Linked DNA regions of Homo sapiens. The protein of the gene in region 2 purifies or fractionates together with the protein of the main gene of each other region. This does not show direct contact. Each region holds a gene or a part of one and is shown on either strand. Other genes may lie near its edges.

Region 1 (3,500 bases), on a different chromosome or scaffold from region 2:
CCGGCATTTGGTGACTGCATCTGGCACGGTGGACCGAGGGGGATCGATCATTGACAAGAGTCCCACAAAACAGAGGTTGGAGGTCGGAAAGTTCATAGCGTCTATGTCAAATGAGTAGGTTTCTGGAAACTCGTCTGCTGGCAGGTAGAGATGACAGAAACCTGTAATACAGATGAATTAGTGAGTCAGTGAAACTAGAATAGGAAACGAAAAAAAATAAGAGGAGAACATGCTCATACACCTTGGTCCTCTGCTGTTTTACCAATACATTAGAATAAGCCAGAATTGTTTAATTTCTTCAACTCCATAATGCATTTTTTTAGGAAAGACATATTTCATCCAAATATAATTCACTGTGAGCTCATTAGGCTCTGTGTTCTAGAAATATATCTTGCTATATTGCCAAGTTCTAGGGCAATACACAGTCTCGACTTCTGAAGTTTAGCGGGGCACAGAGTTAAAGGGATCAAGCATAGGGTACATCTCAGGGCAGAGACACATTTCAGCTGCCTGGAGGATTAGGAGAGACTTCCCCAAGGAGGTCACATGTGAGGTGAAGCTTGAGAGGGGCAAAGATGATTTCTAGGGAAAAAAGGGAGGGTGGAGGTGGGAAGGCCATTTTCAGCAGAGAAAACAGCATGTGAAGGAACAAGGGGGTTCAGCGGAGGGGCACAAAGTTCAGTGCTAGATCAAGATAAGCCCAAGAGAAAGGCCAGCAGGAATGGGGCCGAGCCATCCTTTTCTCAGAAGGCATCAGCCTCTCATAGGCTGAGGTGGAAGGGACTCTTGTGTCTGGTGGGACCTCCAAGATTGTGTGATCAGCTTTCACATCCAATTTATTTTCAGCCTGGCCCACTGCTTTGCAAATGTCAATGGAGCAGGCTTTGAGAAATCAAACGCAAGTGGGCATCGATCCCGTGTAGAATACCCGGTACTGTGGGTTATTGGATGCCTAAAGCATCACCATCTCATTTATATGCTTTATCTGATTTGCCAACTCCAATAGCCTTTAGAAACACACATTCCACAGACTGCATCTGTATTGGTGAGGACTTCCATGGTGTTTAATGAGCCGGATCGTCAACCATACACTTCTGTTTCCTTGAATTTGTCATTCTGTGGTCCTGATGGGGCACCATTCCGCCAGCCCTGGTGCTGACAACAGGACACACTGTCCCCTTTGACAACACCGCAGGCACCCCCATTGGGTCCTCCTCCTGTTGCATTTCTAAGGTTCCTTCCTTCCTGACACTTTGTCTGCATCACTGGCATCACTCTCTTCCTAGTCGTTAAATGGGAAGCTTAATCATTTTTAAACATTATCCTTCTCTGATAGGTTCTAAATCTTACCAAACTCTACCTCTATGAAGTCTCTTGCCCTGATCTCTCCTTCCCATTCCCATCACCCTGAAAAAATTCCCATCCCTTTTGCCTGAGCAAGGGCAGCTGCTTCCTATGGAGATGTGCATCTCTCCTCTCCCTGCTGCCGCCAAAGACATTTAAAGAAGTTAAAGAAATTTAACTCCTTCCATAAAGTCTTCCCCAGCCCTGCGACTGCCCAGCTCACTCTAGTGGCACAGCCCTCAGTGCTCTCTACTGACTGCAGGATGAAACCTGGCTCCTCACCCAGATGTTCAAGACCTCCATCTCATGACCTCCAGTCCAGCCCTTGAACCCTGTTTCTGTGACAGTGCCATCTCACCTGCTGGCAGCACCCAATGTGCCCCACGCCGTTCTGCCTCTGTGATTGGCCTGTGCTGTTCCCTGGGCCCTGGATACTTTCCCCTATCTCCCCTCAAATGCAGTCACTTAAGGCCCAGTTTGAAATTTAACTCCTTCCATAAAGTCTTCCCTGAGCTTGCCTCTCTGGAGGCCATCCCACCCTGCTTGGTGCTGTCACACAGCATCCTCTCCTTGTTCCCATCCTGCTTATCATGTTCTCCTTTACATGCTTCACGTGGATGCCATGGCCACTGGGCTAGGTCACAGGTCCTCAAGGCGCCTGCCTCATCTCTGTGCCCACCAGGTGATGGGCAGGGCCCTGCCGCCGCACTCACCCAGCACACGCTCGCCCAACCCGCCCAGCTCCATGTAGGCTGTGTGGAAGGTCTTGGCAGTGCTCTTGTCCAGTGGGTGCTCCTCGCCGTTGATCATGATGGTGCTGCATTTCTCTAGGATGCGCTCAGGGGCCCCCTTCATCACCATGAGGAAGCGCTTGCCGTGGGGGTCATCCATCTCGTGGATGGAGAGCTGGGAAGGAATGAACTGAGCGTGTTACTTACAGAAAGGTGAAACGCATTCCTTCTTCTCTACTGGTCCATTAAATGTAAAGGAGGAAGAGGCACAATGGCATCCTCAGCATGTTCCGCCCTTTTTCTTTCTGTGGCCAAGTAAGACGAAGAGCTCTAGACTTGGCCCCAGCCCAGAGTGGGGCACCCACTCTGGATAAGTGGAGCTCATCTTTCAAGCAAAACTGGCTGCTTTAGGCAGGCTAGTTGTGGCCGTCAGCGTGTGAAATCTTGTGCCTTGAACAAGATCTCCCAGGGTGCCCGTGAGAGTTAGGGGGCTGCGAGCCTCTGCATCTCACCTCCTCTACCTCCCTGTGGGGAGCAGCCGTCTTTCAGACCCAAACTATTCTGAGCTCAGGAGGGGAGGAGGCGACAGGAATTTCTGCACCTCCTCACCTCATTGTCCACCCAGTTTTCCTGCTTGGATGTCATAGAAAATGGCGGGGTGTGAGGAAGTGGACACTTCCACGTATAATGTTTCAGGAAGACAGCCGAGTCACAGGAGTCTCCATTTTAATAGGAATGCTCTTGACCCAGCAATTCTACTTCTAGATCCATCCTAATAAGATATGCAAAAAAAATCGATATACAAGAATAAAAGGACTAACTCTTATCTAGCCCTTCTGATAAGCCAGGTACTCTTCTAAGCACTCAAGAGGAATCTCAGGAAGCTGGAGTGTTTGGGAGAAAATAAGTTGCAAAGAAAAGTGCTACAATTTTGGGTAAAACAGTTCTTTACAAATCAGTATTTCTTAGACTTCTGGGTATCAAAGATGAGTACAAAAAGAAGTATAGGGCAAATAGGGTTACCAGCTGCTGCTGCTGCTTTTTTTAATGATCAAGTAAAGACATTGAGAAAACCAACCAACCAACAAAAACCAAACCAAACAGAAAACCTCCCAGCTCTATCACTTTCTAAAATATAGGCCTTTTCTTTTTCTTTCTCTCTTTCTCTCTTAAATTTTTTTTTTTTTTTTTTTGAGACGGGGTCCCACTCTGTGCCCCAGGCTGGAGTGCAGTGGCACGATCACAGCTCACTGCAGCCTCGACCTCCCAGGCTCAAGCAATCCTCCCACCTCAGCCTCCCAAGTAGCTGGGACTACAGGTATGTGCCACCATGCCCAGCTAATTTCGTTTTTTGTTTTTTTTGTAGAGATAAGGTCTTGGTATATTGCCCAGGCTGGTCTTGAACTCCTGGGCTCAAGCAATCTG
Region 2 (3,025 bases):
GAGACAGTCTACACTGAATCAGTTTGAGCTGGTTTCATAGTTTTGAGGAGACAGAATCTGATGTGTTAGCACATCACGAGGGCGAGGGACAGGAAGAAAACACAAATAATCCAGAATTTTCAAGTTCAAGTGCTTGGAAATATTCATGCCATGCACAAGCAAAGAAATGGAATTTAGAGGGGTCTAGGATTAGGAGCAAAGACAATGAAACAAGGGGTTATGGAGCCCCCTTTTTACTCTTTTCAAATTTTCTGGCATGATATACTTTCTAAGACATTGACACATTCTCATCTTATTCAACCTTTGGTAAGGCATTTTCTCATCTCACAAGATAGAGGTGATAGAAATAATGTATCCATTTATTTCTAAAAGATTATGTAAAACAACCTGAACCAGTTTAATTAGGGGAAAAGATTTTGGGTCGAAATAATTCAGAATTTTCTGCCAAAGAAAATGAAAATAAATTCACTTTAAATCCTTAGCAGTTTATTGGGCATTTGTCACATGCAGCAGTAGCTGAAGAGAGTGGCAGTGATAATGATGCAGATGTAGTTACTTATTTTCATTCAGTCCTTCAACCTGCTGTTATCCTCTTCAGGGCAGACTTCACTTCCTGGTTCCTCAGTGTATAGATGAGGGGGTTCAGTAATGGAGTGACAACAGTGTAAAACACAGCCGCTGCCCCATCCAGGGGGTCTTTGGAGCCAGCCCTAAGGTAGATGAAAATACAGGGGACATAGTAGACTGTGACCACGATTAGGTGGGAGCCACAGGTGGAGAAGGCCCGGCGCCTCCCATCAGTGGTGCGTATCTTCAGGATGGCATTTACTATGTTGGCATACGAGAGCAGAATTAACATGAAGCAACTGGCGGCCACTACCCCGACGTCCACAAAGGTCACAAGCTCATTGACAGTTGTGTCAGCACAGGCCAGTCTCAATACTGCGGGGATGTCACAGATAAAGTAATCCACCTGATTGGGCCCACAGTAGGGCAGGCGGAAGGTCAAGGTGGCCTGGATAGACCCATGCATGGAGCCGGCGACCCAAGCTCCAGCCACAAGGACTGTGCATAACCTCCCATTCATGAGCACTGGGTAGCGCAGGGGCTGACATATTGCCAGGTACCTGTCATAGGCCATCAAGGTGTAGAGGAAGCACTGGGTGCTGCCCAGGAAGTGAAAGAAATACAGTTGAGCCACACAGCCACCAAACGGGATAGCCTTGATGGAAGGAGTAAAATCCAAAATAAGCAGAGGAACGGTGACTGAGGAGAGCCACATGTCCAGGAATGAGAGCACTCCCAGAAGAATGTACATGGGGCGAGCACAGAGCTTCGGGTCAGCCCACATGGTGAGCAGAATGAGCAGGTTCCCCAGCTGAGTGAGGATGTAAATGATGAAGAAGACCAGGAAGAGGAGGCTTCTTAGATTTGGGGGGTGAGACAAACCCAGAAGAATGAAATCTGTCACCACGGCATCCAGCGATGTGTTTTTGGTCTTTCCCATGTCTTTTTGTAGTCTGCTAAGATGAATGGTGACGTTTGACAAGAGAAACACAGCACAATGATGTTGTAAGTGAATGCTTTTGTCGGATGATTGATGCCTAGGAATTATGAGATAAACAAGATAGAGTCAAATTGTTTTTTAAAAGAGGAGGTGGTGTCACCATTAGTTATTTAGGTTTACTTAAAAGGAGAAGTCCTCCAGAGGCTGGTTAGTTTCCTAGATGGGAGGAAACTCTTGTCCATTGAGAGATACTGAAAGCCAGGATTTGCCAGATGAAGGAAGAGGGACACATGAGAGTGATAGAGAAGTACCGAAAATTCCAACCAAAAAGTGAGTTCGCCAAGGAGGGGCTAAAGTTGATGCAGAGCAGTGTGGAACAAACACCCTATAATGACCACATCTACTTTTTCTTCACCTACTATCATTGTCCCCTTTTTCCTCAGCTAAAATCTCATCTCCTTAACATATCATGCAAAAATATTCCTCATCTGGCCCTTATTTATATCGCTATTGTACCACTTGTAATTCCTTCTTATTGTTGGGAGGCATGACACTCTTCAAGCTTCTCACAGTAGTGTGCTCTAACTTGGGACTTACGCACACACTATCTTTTCTGCTCCCTTCACATAGGTAGTGCCCACTTTTCCTTCAGGATTCAGTTTGAGTGTCTTCACCTTCAAGAAGGCTTTCCGGATCCCTGAGGACAATGCTTATACTTTTCTGAGCACGTACATTATGTTGCATTGTCTAATTTCTGTTTTTCTCTCTTAATAATCATCCCGTCTAGCATGCTAAAAGTGATAAATACCGTAATTATTTTCTGAATGACTGAGATAGATAGAATGGATGTTGCCAAATCCCCCTGACTGAATACATTGTTTCTCTTGATCTTTTTTGTCTGACCCCTGTGCTCACATGGCTGGGACTTTTAGGTCAAGGGACCACCTCATTCACCATGTAATATGGGTATAATTTCATTATAAAAAACTCCAAGAAACATTTATGCCTGTTTTTGCTCCAGGATATCATTTAGATTTATTTGTTGATTTATATGGTTCATTGGTTTGGGATTGGGTTTTTTTTTTGGTATGAGGTCACAGAGGAATTTTTATTGTTTGTTATAAAATCATTGATTAATGCAGGACTTGATCTTTAGTGTGCTTGTGTGTAATATCTATGTATTGCAGTCTATCAAACAGCAACTCTCTCTAAAGACATTTACAGATTTTCAAGTATCTGAACAAGATGATAAAATAGAGGGATGGAATGTGTTTGTTTCACTCTTTTTGTTAAATAGGTTGCTTGATAAAGACTTTTCGCTCTATATATGGTTTGAGATGCATTTATCTTTCATTTAACTACAAAATATCTTTGTAATGCAAATGACTACTTTCATAAAGCAATTAAAATGACAATAGATTATTATAAATAACATGTGAATATTAATAAGTTTAATCTCTATCGGAAATTCTCCAAAGAGATTTTATCTTAAGTATTCTGTGAAATAACTTAATTCAT

Evidence for each region. The genes of interacting proteins can lie anywhere in the genome.
Region 1: the proteins of OR10G2 (region 2) and ATP12A purify together in Homo sapiens (affinity purification with mass spectrometry; one large-scale study listed by BioGRID and IntAct). This does not show direct contact.

What each region holds. Positions count from the first base shown.
Region 1 is NC_000013.11:24,697,408-24,700,907, reverse strand, and holds part of ATP12A (potassium-transporting ATPase alpha chain 2), read right to left. Parts: intron 2,251-3,500; coding exon 2,058-2,250; intron 162-2,057; coding exon 1-161. UniProt on the Homo sapiens protein: The catalytic subunit of a H(+)/K(+) ATPase and/or Na(+)/K(+) ATPase pump which transports K(+) ions in exchange for Na(+) and/or H(+) ions across the apical membrane of epithelial cells.
Region 2 is NC_000014.9:21,633,336-21,636,360, forward strand, and holds OR10G2 (olfactory receptor 10G2), read right to left. Parts: upstream 1,606-3,025; 5' UTR 1,508-1,605; coding exon 575-1,507; 3' UTR 501-574; downstream 1-500. UniProt on the Homo sapiens protein: Odorant receptor.